2 separate regions of the Homo sapiens genome follow, and region 2 is linked to region 1. A link means that fine-mapping ties the variant in region 1 to the expression of a gene that starts in the linked region. Tissue or cell type: whole blood. Region 1 holds a variant in brackets; the other region holds the start of a gene. All regions are shown on one strand. Distances are from middle to middle.

The links. PIP is the estimated chance that this variant, and not a neighbour inherited with it, causes the effect.
Region 2: DDX6 starts here. The variant in region 1 is fine-mapped to the expression of DDX6 in whole blood (TOPMed, PIP above 0.99). The same link has a PIP of 0.9 or more in blood mononuclear cells, nasal epithelium and tibial nerve.

Annotation. Positions count from the first base shown.
Region 1 is chr11:118,716,608-118,724,708 of GRCh38, forward strand. LOC124902766 (endogenous retrovirus group K member 7 Env polyprotein-like) reads right to left here. Exons shown (of 3, transcript XR_007062912.1): 1 at 7,088-8,101; 2 at 3,586-5,468. Among named protein-coding and RNA genes, the nearest start is that of TREH, 41 kb to the left of the region's middle. RefSeq lists enhancers at 1-602, 603-1,408, 2,217-3,022, 3,061-3,802, 4,543-5,283. The variant A/AG (reference allele first, on the strand shown) is at 3,599.
Region 2 is chr11:118,787,901-118,796,001 of GRCh38, forward strand. It overlaps DDX6 (DEAD-box helicase 6), which reads right to left and starts at 3,264. Exons shown (of 14, transcript NM_004397.6): 1 at 3,198-3,264. RefSeq lists enhancers at 1,864-2,421, 1,880-2,059, 3,370-3,479, 4,096-4,651, 5,040-5,149 and silencers at 2,260-2,339, 2,970-3,299, 3,750-4,039.

The DNA.
Region 1 (8,101 bases):
TTTCCTGTGCAACATGTGGATTCAGTGAGCTTAAACAAAGCCGCAAAACAAAGTGACCATATCCTCCCTCTTTTTTTTTTTTTTAATGTTCCCTTTCCCCTCCTGCCTGCTTTTTCCCCTTTACTTTTTATTTTTATTTTTTGAGATGGCGTCTCTCTCTGTCACCCAGGCTGGAGTGCAATAGCGTGATCTTGGCTCACTGCAACCTCCGCCTCCCAGGTTCAAGCGATTCTCCTGCCTCAGCTTCCTGAGTAGCTGGGATTACAGGTGCATGCCACCACACTCGGCTAATTTTTGTATTTTTAGTAGAGACAGGGTTTCACCATGTTGGTCAGGCTAGTCTCAAACTCCTGACTTTGTGATCCAGCTGCCTCGGCCTCCCAAAGTGCTGGGATTACAGGCCTGAGCCACTGTGCCCGGCCACTTTCATGCACGTCCGTGTAAAGAGACCACCAAACAGGCTTTGTGTGAGCAATAAAGCTTTTAATCACTTGGGTGCAGGCAGGCTGAGTCCAAAAAGAGAGTCAGTGAAGAGAGATAGGGGTGGGGCCATTTTATAAGATTTGGGTAGATAAAGGAAAATTACAGTCAAAGGGGGTTGTTCTCTGGCAGGCAGGAGTGGGGGTCACAAGGTGCTCAGTGGGGGAGCTTTTGAGCCAGGATGAGCCAGGAGAAGGAATTTCACAAGACAATGTCATCAGTTAAGGCAGGAACGGGCCATTTTCACTTCTTTTGTGGTGGATTGTCATCAGTTAAGGCAGCAACCAGCCATCTGGATGTGTACGTGCAGGTCACAGGGGATATGATGGCTTAGCTTGGGCCCAGAGGGCTGACATTCCTGTCTTCTTATATTAATAAGAAAAATAAAATGAAATAGTGGTAAAGTGTTGGGATGGCGAAAATTTTGGGGGATGGTATGGAGAGATAATGGGGGATGTTTCTCAGGGCTGCTTCGAGCGGGATTAGGGGTGGCGTGGGAACCTAGAGTGGGAGAGATTAAGCTGAAGGAAGATTTTGTGGTAAGGGGTGATATTGTGGGGTTGTTAGAAGAAACATTTGTCATTTAGAATTATTGGTGATGGCCTGGATACAGTTTTGTATGAATTGAAAAACTAAATGGAATAAGAGAAGGAGAAAAACAGGTATAAAAGGTCTAAGAATTGGGACGACTCAGGACATCTGATTAGAGAGTGCCTAAGGAGATTCAGCATAGTCCTGCCAGCAAAGATTATTTATTTACTTCAAGAGGTAAGAGTGGCAGTTTGGGGATAGCACCAGGAGATATCAGCTGTGATGGCTTAGAGAAACAGTGTAAACCGGCAGTGTAAACAAGAGCAGAGCATGTATGAGTAGTTGAGAACGGTGAATAGGAGTATGACTAGACAGAAGATAGTAGGGATGACAAGTTTTTTTGGGGGCACGGTGGAAGTTGGTCTGATGTCTGGAATGAGACTGGGGCCTAATAAAAAGGAGCATCTATACAGGAGCTCAAATGGGCTGTACCTTGTAGCATTCTGAGGACATGTCTGACTTCTGAGAAGGGAAAGTGGTAAAAGTATTGTCCAGTCCTTTTTAAGTTGGTGGCTGAGCTTGGTGAGGTGTGTTTTTAAAAGACCTTTAGTCCGTTCTACTTTTCCTGAAGACACAGGACAGTAAGGGATATAAAGGTTTCACTGAATACTAAGAGCCTGAAAACCTGCTTGGCTGATTTGACTAATAAAGGCTGGTCTGTTAACAGACTGTATAGAGGTGGGAAGACTAAACTGAGGAATTATGTCTGACAGAAGGGAAGAAATGACTGCGGTGGCCTTCTCAGACCCTGTAGGAAAGGTCTGTACCTATTCAGTGAAAGTGTCTACCTAGACTAAGAGGTATTTTAGTTATCTGACTCGGGGCATGTTGAGTAAAGCTAATTTGCCAGTCCTGGGTGGGGGCAAATCCTCGAGCTTGATGTGTAGGGAAGGGAGGGGGCCTGAATAATCCCTGAGGGATAGTAGAATAGCAGATGGAACACTGAGAAGTTATTTCCTTGAGGATAGATTTCCACGATGGAAAGGAAATGGGAGGTTCTAAGAGGCCGGCTAGTGGCTTGTACTATAGCATAACCTGCCTTTGCTGGTGTGTGGCGATTAGGCCTGGTGGAAACCACCATCAATAAATCAAGCGTGATCAGGGTGAGGAACAGGAAAGAAGGAAATATGGGGAAATTGGGTGAATGTCAGGTGGATCAGAGAGATACAGTCATGGGGGTCAGGTGTGGTATCAGGAATAATGTGGGAGGCCGGATTGAAGTCCGGGCCAGGAACAATGGTAATTGTGGGACTTAACAACGAGTGAGTACAGCTGAAGGAGCCAGGGAGCAGAAAGTATATGCGTCAGGTATGAGGAAGAAAATAGATTTTGGAAGTTATGAGAAATGTAGAGAGTAAGTTGAGCATAGTTTGTGATTTTGAGGGCCTCTAAAAGTATTAGGGCGGCAGCAGCCGCTGCACGGAGACATGAGGGCTAGGCTAAAACAGTAAGGTCAAGTTGTTTGCACAGAAAGGCTACAGGGTGCGGTCCTGGCTCTTGTGTAAGAATTCTGACCGCACTAACCATGCCTAGGAAGGAAAGGAGTTGTTGTTTTGTAAGGGATTGAGGTTTGGGAGATTAATCAGACATGATTAACAGGGAGAGCACGTGTGTTTTTATGAGAATTATGCCGAGATAGGTAACAGATGAGGATGAAATTTGGGCTTGACTGAAGTAATGGGGGCTGTCTGTGAAGCCTTGTGGCAGTACAGCCCAGGTAATTTGCTGAGCCTGATGGGTGTCAGAGTCAGTCCAAGTGAAGCGAAGAGAGGCTGGGATGACGGGTGCAAAGGAATAGTAAAGAAAGCACGTTTGAGATCCAGTACAGAGTAATGGATTGTGGAGAGAGGTATTGAGGATAGGAGAGTATATGGGTTTAGCACCATGGGGTGGATAGGCAAAACAATTTGGTTGATAAGGCATAGATCCTGAACTAACTTGTAAGGCTTGTCTGGTTTTAGGACAGGTAAAATGGGGGAATTGTAAGGAGAGTTTATAGGCTTTAGAAGGCCATGCTGTAGCAGGCGAGTGATAACAGGCTTTAATCCTTTCAAAGCATGCTGTGGGATGGGATATTGGCATTGAGCCGTGTGAGGGTGATTAGGTTTTAATGAGATGGTAAGGGGTGCATGATTGGTCACCAAGGAGGGAGTAGAGGTATCTTATACTTGTGGGTTAAGGTGGGGGAATACAAGAGGAGGACGCAAAGGAGGCTTTGGATTGGGAAGAAGGGCAGCAATAAGATGCAGCTGTAATCCAGGAATAGTCAGGGAAGCAGATCATTTAGTTAAAGTGTCTCAGCCTAATAAGGGAACTGGGCAGGTGGGGATAACTAAAAGGAGTGCTCAAAAGAGTATTGTCTAAATTGGCAGCAGGGTTGGGGAGTTTTAAGAGGTTTAGAAGTCTGGCTGTCAATACGCACAGCAGTTATGGAGGCAAGGGAAACAGGCCTTTGAAAAGTAGGTAATGTGGAGTGGGTAGCCTCCGTATTGACTAAGAAGGGGAAGGACTTACCCTCCACTGTGAG[A/AG]TTACTTAAAGCTCGGCATCCGCGATGGTCTACGGGGCTTCCAAGGCGATCAGGCAGCATCAGTCTTCAGCTGCTAAGCCGAGAAGGAGTCAGTCAGAGAGCCTTGGGCCAGAATTCCAGGGGTTCTGGGAGTGGCTGCCAGGTGAGTTGAACAGTCCGATTTCCAGTGGGGTCCCGCGCAGATGGGACACGGCTTAGGAGGAATCCTGGGCTGCAGGCATTCCTCGGCCTGGTGGTCAGATTTCTGGCACTTGTAGCAAGTTCCTGGGGGAGGAGGTTCTGGAGGAACGCCTGGCCACTGCGGTTTAGGCGTTTGGAAGTTCTTGTGGGCTGGAGATGTGGCTGGGGTTTGTCTCACAGTAAAGGCAAGGAATTGCGACTTTTTTCTATTATTGTACACCTTGAAGGTGAGGTTAATTAAATCCTGTTGTGGGGTTTGAGGGCTGGAATTTAATTTTTGGAGTTTTATTTAATGTCGGGAGCAGATTGAGTAATAAAATGTATATTGAGAATAATACAGCCTTTTGACCTTTTAGGTCTAGGGCTGTAAAGCATCTCAGGGTTGCTGCCGAACGAGCCATGAACTGGGCTGGGTTTTTTATATTTGATGAAAAAGAGCCTAAACGCTATCTGATTTGGGATAAAGAAAAAGGAGCATTAACCTTGACTATGCCTTTAGCTCCAGCCACCTTTTTAAGAGTAAATTGCTGGGCAGGTGGGGGAGGGCTAGTCACGGAATGAAACTGTAAGCCGGACGGGTGTGTGGAGGGGAGGTGATAAAAGAATTATAGGGTGGAGGAGCAGAGGCTTGAAGGGGTGGGTTGCCCCTCCACACCTGTGGGTGTTTCTCGTAAGGTGGAACGAGAGACTTGGAAAAGAAAAAGACACAGAGACAAAGTATAGAGAAAGAAATAAGGGGACCCGGGGAACCAGCGTTCAGCATATGGAGGATCCCGCCAGCCTCTGAGTTCCCTTAGTATTTATTGATCATTCGTGGGTGTTTCTCCGAGAGGGGGATGTGTCAGGGTCACAAGACAATAGTGGGGAGAGGGTCAGCAGACAAACACGTGAACAAAGGTCTTTGCATCATAGACGAGGTAAAGGATTAAGTGCTGTGCTCTTAGATATGCATACACATAAACATCTCAATGCTTTACAAAGCAGTATTGCTGCCCGCATGTCCCACCTCCAGCCCTAAGGCGTTTTTCCCTATCTCAGTAGATGGAACGTACAATCGGGTTTTATACCGAGACATTCCATTGTCCAGGGACGGGCAGGAGACAGACGCCTTCCTCTTGTCTCAACTGCAAGAGGCATGCCTTCCTCTTATACTAATCCTCCTCACACAGACCCTTTATGGGTGTCGGGCTGGGGGACGGTCAGGTCTTTCCCTTCCCACGAGGCCATATTTCAGACTATCACATGGGGAGAAACCTTGGACAATACCTGGCTTTCCTAGGCAGAGGTCCCTGCGGCCTTCCGCAGTGTTTGTGTCCCTGGGTACTTGAGATTAGGGAGTGGTGATGACTCTTAAAGAGCATGCTGCCTTCAAGCATTTGTTTAACAAAGCACATCTTGCACAACCCTTAATCCATTTAACCCTGAGTTTGACACAGCACATGTTTCAGAGAGCACGGGGTTGGGGGTAAGGTCATAGATTAACAGCATCTCAAGGCAGAAGAATTTTTCTTAGTACAGAACAAAATGGAGTCTCCTATGTCTACTTCTTTCTATACAGACACAGTAACAATCTGATCTCTCTTGCTTTTCCCCACATTTCCCCCTTTTCTTTTCGACAAAACCGCCATCGTCATCATGGCCCATTCTCGATGGTCGCTGTCTCTTCGGAGCTGTTGGGTACACCTGCAGACTAACAACAGACAAAACAGGCACACAAGGATTAATATGAGATTTATAATTGTAGTACTTCCGATGGTCTTAACCCAAGTGACAGGGTTAAGATTTGCGAGGCCATCAGCAACTCCTGCAATTGCCTCAGTTCCTGGCACCAAATTTAAATGGGCTTTTGATGCTTCAAAAATTTTTTCTTTTAATTTGGAAATGTCTAAAGTGAGATTATCTTCTCTTCCCTGTAGATGGTGTCTAACCATGTCCCAGTGATGCTCAGACTCATTATAAATTTGGGGTGTAATACAAAAGTCTGACGTATTGCAGTCACACTGTAACTGGAAACGACGTTCTAAGCTCATGAGTCTGTCTCCTATCCAAATGAGTTTGTCTAAGATGATTAATTTGATTTGCCAATTTTTGATCAATACTAGATTGTGAATTCCACAATCTTGCAGAATTCTTTTGCCAATCATTAACAAAGTTTACCGACTGAACAGAAGAGTGCAATGCAACTCCTGCCACAGCAGCCGTAGCTGTGACTGCAATTAATCCCATAATCACTGCAATTAAAGTAAAAATGAATCTTTTGGATCTATTTAAAATGCCTTTTAATACTTCAGTCAAAATATGGATGGATGGCGAGGCCTCCCACGGTCTGTCCATGGACACAGGGATCCACACGCCTTCTCTTGCTCTCACCAGCAGAATACGCTGCTGCCAATTAAAAGTTGAATCAATGCAAGTAAACAATCTACAATTTTCACAGGTTATAGTTTGGGAGTCTGGTTTAATAACTATATTTCCTACAACTAGCATATAAGGGGGCTTTACGCAACTCTGTAAAGGAACCGTTAGACTGGAATTTAGGTCGATAGTATAAAATGGCTTACGATCTCTTGTTTCTGAAGTTTGATTTCCAGACCAAATTCTAATGTGGTGTGAGGCCACAATAAGCCTCCATAATTCTGGATGTTCAGGACCAGAAACAGGACTTATTATTTTTGGTCTTGGGGTAGAGATTCCTTTTTCTCCCCATTCCCAAGGGTACAAAGACTGTAATTTTTTATGCTTATGTTTGTCTAGACTTTCTGTTAAGTCGCTATCAACAGCTGGACTCACTTGTGCACTTGGACACAACTGAGTTTGTCCTGAGCAATTGTGATCGAATTGACCTCGAGGTGCCCAATCTATAATAGTTCCGAATTCATTGTTTTGTAATATCACCGCACTATTGGCCACACATTCTTCCCAAACTAAAACTTCTGTATTTTTTGATTCTTTGGGAATTTCCTTGGGGCAAGGTTTTCCTTTAGGTCTAAATTTTAATGATCTTTGATAAGAAAAGTCCTGTAAATAATTTACTCGTGGCCTGAGTGACATCCCGCTTACCATGTGATAAGTGAATCTACCGTTAGGACTGACAGTAGGTACTTCTACCAACCAATTTTGGACTGCATGTATTAAACATCCTGGTGCTCTCCCTAGGCAAATAGGATAACGATACCCAGTGGAAATATTTATCATTATCCCTTCTTCCTCAGGTTTGATAGGGCAGCGATCGTCTGTGGGGCCAGGTACCCGTACACTATCATTAACATATACTTCTATAGGATTATCCATCCATGTGACTGGTGTTACCATCTCTGTGGAGGCCCTTTTCTTTGCATCTCCGATGGGTTCATTGTAGAACTTCAAATGTCTAGTGGGTATCCAAACAGGAAGCTGATTTTCTCCTGGTGAAACACAAGCAAACCTCTCCCCCACGTTATCACCTTCCCTATTTCCCATGTCTTATTTTTATTATCTTTCCACCAAATTAGTTTTCCTTCATGTGGGCTGTTCTTTTTACCAGTAAGATGTTGTTCTGCAGAAGTAGTAGTCTGATTTCTATAAATGTTTAAAAAAATTTAAAGTATAGAGTGCTAGATTAAGTTGCATCTGAGGAGTGGTACACTCCTTACTGTCTCCCCCTTCTTTTTGTTTAACTAATTGAGTTTTGAGTGTTCTATTAGTTCTTTCAACTATGGCCTGTCCTTGGGAATTATAAGGAATTCCTGTTGTATGTGAAATTTTCCACTGACTTAAGAATTTTTGGAAAGCTTTACTACAATATCCTGGTCCATTGTCAGTTTTGATTTTTTCTGGAACTCCCATGACAGCAAAACAAGACAATAAATGTTTTTTAACATGGGAAGTACTTTCTCCTGTTTGGCAAGCTGCCCATATGAAATGTGAAAAGTATCAACTGTTACATGAACATATGATAATCTTCCAAATGAAGGAACATGCGTGACATCCATTTGCCATAACGCATTAGGACACAGACCTCTGGGATTAACTCCTGCCTCTTGAGTGGGCAGGTGTAAGACCTGACACTGGGTGCAATGTTGTACAATATCTTTTGCCTGTTTCCATGTGACATCAAATTTGTTTTTTAATCCTGCTGCATTTGCATGAGTCAAAGCATGAAGTTCTTGTGCTTTTATGAATGCAGATGATACCAGTAAGTCAGCTTGTTCATTTGCTTTAGTCAAAGGCCCTGGTAAATTAGTGTGTGCTTGAATATGAGTAATATAAAATGGGAAATTTCTTTTTCTTACAGTTTGTTGTAATAAATTGAATAGCTGGTTTAACTGATCATCCATGCTATAT
Region 2 (8,101 bases), 71 kb after region 1:
CAGGAAAATTCCTGTTTAAAAAAAAATCCGCGGAAGACTAAACACACTAGTAATTTTAAGAAAACTTTCCAAGAAATCCAGAGTAGTAAAGCTAATTAATAGTTTAAAAAAAAAAAAAAGAACTGGTAGGAGGGGCACGGTAGCTCACGCCTGTAATCCCAACACTTTGGGAGGCCAAGACTGGTGGATCACCTGAGGTCAGGAGTTCAAGACCACCTGACCAACACGGTGAAACTCCGTTCCACTAAAATACAAAAATTAACTGGGCGTGGTGGCCCTGTAATCTCAGCTACTTAGGAGGCTGAGGCAGCAGAATCACTTGAACCCAGGAGGTGGAGGCTGCAGTGAGTCCAGATCATGCCATTGTACTCCAGCCTGGGCAACAAGAGCAATACTCTGACTTAAAAACAAACAAAGCAAACAAACAAACAAAACCCACAAAACTAGTCAACCTCAGTTTAAAATTATCCCGTAAATGGAAATCTTACTTACTTTTATTTTTTATTGTATTTTTTGAGACAGAATCTTGCACTGTCACCCAGGCTGGAGTGCAATGGCGCGCTCTCAGCTCACTGCAAGCTCCGCCTCCTGGGTTCACGCCATTCTCCTGCCTCAGCCTCCTGAGTAGCTGGGATTACGGGCATGCGCCACCATGCCCAGCTAATTTTTGTATTTTTAGTAAAGACGGGGTTTCGACATGTTGGCCAGGCTGGTCTTGAACAACTGAGCTCAGGTGATCCGCCCGCCTCGGCCTCCCAAAGTGCTGGGATTACAGACGTAAGCCACCACGCCCGGCCTATTATTTTTGAGACAGAGTCTCACTCTGTTGCCCAGAGTGGAGTGCAGTAGCCCGATCTCAGCTCACTGCAACCTCCACCACGCAGGTTCAAGCGATCCTCATGCCTTAGCCTCCCAAGTAGCTTGGTGGGATTACAGGTCTGGCTAATTTCTGTATTTTTCAGTAGACACGGGGTGTTATCAAGTTGGCCAGGCTGGTCTTGGACTCCTAACCTCAAATGATCTGCCCGCCTTAGCCTCCTAAAGTGCTAGGATTACAGGCGAGAGCCACCGTGCCCGGCTGAAATCTTACTTTTAATTGGAGTTAATAAAAACATACAAAGACACGAAAACAAAGCCCTACTCTGTTGGCTTTTGATTTAACCCCGTTACACTTTTTTTTTTTTTTTTTTTTTGAGGCGGAGTCTCGCTCTGCCGCCCAGGTTGGAGTGCAGTGGCACAATCTTGGCTCACTGCAACCGCCGCCTCCTGGGTTCAAGCGATTCCCCTGTCTCAGCCTCCCGAGTAGCTGGGATTACAGGCGCCTGCCACCACGCGCAGCTAAATTTTTTCTATTTTTAGTAGAGACGGGGTTTTGCCATGTTGGCCAGGCTAGTATCGAACTCCTGACCTCAGCTGATCCGCCTGTCTTGGCCTCCCAAAGTGCTGGGATTACAGGTGTGAGCCACCGCTCCCAGCAACCCCGTTACATTTCTTATATAAAATACACTAGCTTACGAGTGCTGATTCTTTCTGCCATACACCAAGGCATGTGAAACTCAAAATTTTAAAGTCAACAGATCTCAACATTTATGAAGAAAATGCTCCTTGATTATGCCTTCCTTAAAAAAAAAATGAACAAGTTGCTCACAAGCAAATCCTGATTATCACATACACAAAGCTGTTTACTTCAGACTCTGACCTCTTAAGCAGATATGGTTAACAGCTACTTTCCTGTATTGACGGTTTTATATTATGATCAGCGATATCACGCAGTTCACAGAGACTTAGCTGTTTGCAGAGCACTAAGAGGATGAAAAGGGCAACCTCTAAAGACCGAACGATATCATCATTACTGTCCATCATGCACAGTAAGACCTCCTATATCCTTAAATCCAAAATGAGACTATGTGATAACTGCTCCCTTCTTAAACTGAAACCTGCACTGCAGCTTTTTCTCAGAGAAGGAAATATTCCTCCTACCCCTTCCCAATTTAGATTTGCAAGTTTTCTACATTTTCAAAAACAAAAAACAAAAAAACAAAAAACAAACAACAAGAAACGTAGACTAGTTGGGAGGAGCCCCTAGCGGAGTTAATTACAGCACTTCACAGATCGTAGTTAGCAATTGACAGTTTCACACCCAAAACAGTATCGTCATCGCCAACAAGAGCTTTTGTTTGCAAATGCAGCGCAGTTTTTCTAGCTTTGCCTGCAAGTTGGAGTGACTGGGTTTTATTCTGAAGGGAAATGGGGGCTGAGGAAGAGAAAGGAGAGAGATACGGGAAAGAGTCATTGACTAATGACTGGAACCCCGTAACTGAAAGGAAATTTCTTGTCCCCCCGCACCCCGCCCCACGCCCCAAACACACACACTTCTGACCATAAACACAAAAGGTTGGGGCTCTGCAATCTTATCTGCGCAATATGAGCCAGCAACCGCTCCATTAGTAGCAAACAATAGGGACTCCCCCAAGGAGGCCCCAAATGGACCCCCTAAACCAGAAATCCCCCTCCTTTCCTCCAAGAGTCGGGGGCTCCATAAATACCCTCTTGTTATTGACCCGCAAGGCCTACTGCAATCAAGCAGCGGCCGGTTTGCTTCTAAACCGAGCCCTCCAATACAGCATGTCCCTGCCGCCCCCTATAGGGCCGCCTCGTACCCTATAACCTCCACCATCATCCCCCTAAGTCCTTGCCGCCCCCTTCGGCCTCATATTCCCTCATCTTCGATAAAGCTACTCCGAGTACTTAGCCTGTTCCTCCTGCCGACCCTGCTGCGCACCACATTCCTATATTCGCCTCCTCTCAGGCGCTCCCACCCCACACAGCTGCCGACCGCCTTCCTCCCCAGGCCCGGCCAGGCCTTAGGCCTCCGCCCGAGAGTCCCCCAGAGCCGGCCCGGGGGGCTCCCCACAGCCCCCAAAGCACCGCTGACCTCGACCCCACCACCTCACCCCAAGCCTCGCGACTCGGGCCCGTGTCCTACCAACGAGGCCACTCCCGCTCGGCACCCTCGGTCCTTTATTGTTGACTCGAAGCTCCCAAAATGGCGGACGCTCCTTCCTCCTCGGAAACCTCCGCCCGCCCCCACCCAGCCCTCTCGCTACGGCCTCCTCTCGCCCCCGCCCCCGCCCCGCTCCGAGGGGCGCGCAGGCCAGCCGCCCGAGCCGCCGGCTCCCCCGGCTGTCCAGCCCTACCTCCTCCGCTGCCCGCTCTCGTGGCGCCGCCGAAGTCGCCGCCTGGCTGAGCTAACTCGGCTCCTCTGCCCCCTCCCTCGCTCGCCCGTTCGCCCGCCCGCCGCCTCCTCCCTCTTTCCCTGCCTCTCCGCATGGCGGCGACCGCGGCTCCTCCTCCACTCAAGATGGCGAAACCTCGGCCGCCGCGGCTATATTCGCCGCGGCGTCACTGCCTTCCTGGCCTGGTGGTGAGAGGAAGTCGGGCCGCGAAAGCTTCCTGAGGAGAAAATGGAGGGCCCTTCTCTCACACCGACGAGAAAAGTTCGAGGGGGAAATACGAGTTCCTTTCTGAAGGGACAGGACGGCTGCTTTTCCACAGCCGCGACGTGATTGAGAAATGGTGGCTGGCAAGGGTAGGCCTGCCTTCGCCCCTCCAAAGTAAAAATCGGGAGTTGAGACCAGAGGAACATCTCTTTATTACATGACTAAGGATATGTTTTGAAAACTGGCCCCCGGGCAGCTGCTCGGGGACAGGAAGCTGACCTGACTTCTCCAGCTGGCCGGGGAGGCTGATGCCGGGCCTAAGGGGCCGCGTCCGAGCCTCTCGGGGCGCGCCTCCATGCAGGAAGGCGCGGAACTAGCGACCCGGAGACGCCGGGCGCGCGTCTGAGTGTGGGGGCAGGAAGGGGGGCCGACCGGGCCCGGAGGCCGCACCAGGCAGGAGGGAGGACTCCAGAGAGTGCGCGGGGGGCGCTGCGCGGTGGGACGGGGCGAGCCTGTAGGGCGCGCCTGGCGGCGGGTAGGCTCCGGGCTTGAGGGTGCGCCTGGGGGCGCTGGTTGTGGGGGAAGGCACCGGGCTTGAGGGTGCACCTGGGCGGGGGAAGTCTTCGGGCATGAGGGCGCGCCTGCGGGTGGTATGGGGGGGTACACCGAGCTTGAGGGTGCGCCCGGGGGGCTCTCATGTGAAGGGTACCAGGCTTGAGGGCGCCCCTGCGGGGGGCGCAGAGGCACCGAGCTTGAGGGTGCGCCTCGGGGGTCTGCGGGGGGAAGGCACCGGACTTGAGCGTGCGCCGGGAGAGGACGGCGGGGGACCGGACTGTGAGGGCGTATCTTGGGGGACCTGTCTAGGAGGAACCGGGAGGTGAAGGCACAACTGGGGGTGAGGCGGGGGCAGGGGCCGGGCTGTGAGAGTGCGACTGAGGGGGGATTACTCCGGAGAGCACGGAGCTGGGGGCGTTGCGCAGGTGGAGTGGGGAGGCCTGGTGGAGAGGGTAGCAAACCGAGAGAGCGCACCGGGGTGGTGGGGGGAGAAGCTGGACTGTAAGGTGAAGAGTTAGTAGGGCGCAACCGTCTTCTCCTGCCCTCGAAGGGCAAGACTGAAGAAAGTAGGGGCGGAGGAGGCCGGGCCCTCCACTAAAGGGAGGGAAGCTAGTGAAGCGTCAGTTATAATAGAAATAGGAATTCAGTAAGGAAATGGAGAAGCTTAAGGCAAAGGGTGACTCTCCGGCCTGACCCTCACTATGAAGATATTTATGTATGTTCCCATAATACTTTTCAGATCCCAATGTCTGTGTTTATCCTTGACAGAAATAATAGAACTGCTGTCTTCTTCCAAGTTAAACAAAACTTTGGAGCTAAAAGCTAGCTAGGTCAAGAGAAACAAAATCTAATCCTCACCCAATTGAGAGACTGAATATACAAAGAATGGCCAAACCTAACCATGACCTCCTACCCATAACCTCTTCAGTAATCGGCCAGAAGGGTCAGGACTTAATCTTTAACCGGCAGCTTCCCTATTTCTTGCCCCTGCTTCCAGCTCTGGGCCAATCAGAGAAAGCCAAATGTGCTCCTCACACCAATCGCGTAAGAAGCCCTGCTTCTAGTATAGCCCTCCTCCAACTTCCCGATGCCAACATCCTCCAATCAGAGCCAACCTGAAGTTTCTCCCTTTTTTCAGTATATGTAAAGCTTTTCCACTCCCCTGCCTGCCTATGAGTCTGTTAAATCAAGTGATGGGTCGCGGCTGACTCTTGCCAGCTCTGAGTAAATAGCCTATTCTCATTTGGTGGTCGTTATTTCTACACAGCCGGTGGGAAGGTGGTGGAGAATAGTGAAGACTATTCTTAAGGTTAAAAAGAAGGTTCGGCTTACATTTTTTTTTTATTTTAAATTTACAGCATGGCGTCTCCAGCCCAGGTTTTAAAATACCTTCTAATGTAAGGAAATAGCCCTGCACCTTGTGCCCATCCTAGAGAGAAAATGGTTTCTTAATAAAAAATGTATGAGGCCTTTTTTGCCCCAATATCTTCCCAAGCAGAGGAATGTGAAGGGGGGTTGGGCCAAGAAGTGAGTGGTAGGAAGAGAGGCCTACGGATTTAAAACAGGCCACTGCTTGGAGGGGTGTCTTTCCTAAACCACTGAAGAAATTGAACCAGGCAAAGGAAGGGGGTTCACACCCACAAATAAACTATAACCTACAAAAGGAGCCCGGGTTCACATCCACAAATAAATTGTAACCTACACAAGGAGTCTGGTTGAGGTCACAAAACAAAAGCCAGGAGGCAACCAAAAGTAGAATATGAAATAGGTGCTGCCTTCTCACCTAGGAATCCTTCCAGGGCTAAAACCTTCAAATATTCTGCTTTTAAGGTAGTCAGATACCCTCACAACTCATTTACATCAGCCCTTCTCTGTTTTCAAGTGAGAAGCATAGATGGTTTAGAATTAAGCTATGAACTCTTGGATCTTTTCTTCCAAGTTTAGTGTTAGTGGTAGATAGGTCTAGTCCAACTATCTCAATACATTGTTTTCTCCCTAGTTAAAACAGATTTGCAAGAATCATTTGTATGACACTTTAGGAATACAGATAAATTGCTAGTGCAAATAATATCCTTATATTTATAAAATATATGTGTACTTTTAAAAAAGTTATATGAATCCAATCCTCTGGCCTTTTAGTTAGTATTGAGTGTGATAGTTGTGGGAGATCTGTAGTAAATACGGTTTCTGAAGGGTGTGCTATCATCCCTAATGAACTCACCTATTAATTGTGGTAAAGAGTTTTTCACTTGGGCTGGGCACGGTGGCTCACGCCTGTAATCCCAGCACTTTGGGAGGCCGAGGCAGGTGGGTCGACTGAGGTCAGGAGTTCCAGACCAGCCTAGCCAACATGGTGAAACCCCGTCTGTACTAAAAAAAAAAAAAAGAAAAAAAATAGCTGGGCATGGTGGCAGGTGCCTGTAATCCCAGCTACTTGGGAGGCTGAGGCAGGAGAATCCCTTGAACCTGGGGAGGCGGAGGTTGCAGTGAGCCAAGATCGTGCCATTGCACTCCAGCCTGGGCAACAAGAGCAAAACTCCGTCTCAAAAAAAAAAAAAAAAAGAAAAAGAAAAAGAAATGAAAAAAAAAGTTTCCCAACATGTATTAGCCGTTTTCATGTTGTCTGTATTCACCTTTGCGTCATCACCCCTCTTCAATTTCCTCCTGGAATTCAATCACAGTAATGGGTTATCTCAGCATATATTATTCGCCAGTCTCACATCCTGACCTCATTTATTTACCTAAAAATAACCAGAACGAAAAAAAAATCACAGATTAATTTACACTTGATTTCACTTTAACTTCAATTTAAAATACTTAGAATCCAGAATTCCTAGTAAGTTGAACCTGGAATACGCAGACCTGTGATAATATCTTAAACACTCAAATGTTTTCAACTTGCTGAAATGGAGTTCACACTTTTAACATTCTGGGCTTTTTTTTTAAAAGGGACTATAATACTTTAACTCAAATTACAATCAAATGTGTTCATTACCTATAAGAAAAAAATTTTACCTATCTCATATCTTCAGTGAAATGATTATATCACATCTGGCTAAGCTTTACCATTTGGTATTTGCCCTCTTTCAAGTGATTTGCAGTATAATACTTTGATTTCCCAAAATTTCAACATACAAAGTTATTTTCCAAATATGCTCAAGCAACATCTGATCATCACTAACAAGACTAAAGGCTAATATGCCCAAGGAGCCAAGTCCCGTTTTCTTGGGACTTCATAGCAGGTAAAAATTGCCTTTTCAATTTATACACCTGAAGAAAGTGAAGCAGCATCAGTCACTGAGGGCTTAGTAGAGATGTCCTCAGAGAGGTGCACATACTGCGCTGAAGTTGATGCATACTAAGCAGGCGTGCTTAATCACTGAGAGGTTACATCAGGCACATTTTGTTGGAATAAATGTTCCAACCCCTGAGTAAACTCAAATTGAAAAGTAGGAAAGTTGGCCAGCGCGGTGGCTCACACCTGTAATCCCAGCACTTTGGGAGGCCAAGGTGGGCGGATCACGTGAGGTCAGGAGTTCGAGACCAGCCTGGCCAACATGGTGAAACCCCATCTCTACTAAAAATACAAAAATTAGCCGGGTGTGGCAGCATGCACCTGTAATCCCAGCTACTTGGGAGGCTGTGGCGGAGAATTGCTTGAACCCAGGAGGCAGAGGTTGCAGTGAGCTGAGATTGCACCACTGCACTCCAACCTGGGTGACAGAGTAAGACTCTGTCTCAAAAAAAAAAAAAAAAAAAAAAGTGTAGGAAAGCAATAGTACAAACGAGGAGGGGAGTGGGTGAGTTAAACACATTTTCCCCAAACTGCCAGGTTTACTTTGCAGAATTTGTATTCTCTTTCACAGATAACATAACCCTCATTCCCAGCACACCACAACCAAGCTAGCTAGCTGGCTCAGCTCACGGTGTCCTTCGGCCACATCGGGACTCAGCATGGTATATGTTCTGGTCATCACCCAGAGAATTCTAGCTATTCATTTTGACTCTTCAGTTTCGCTAAGATGACTGCATGCCAGCAATTTTAACTTATTTATTAATTTGAAAATAATGTGTGGCTGGGCCGGGCACAGTGGCTCACGCCTGTA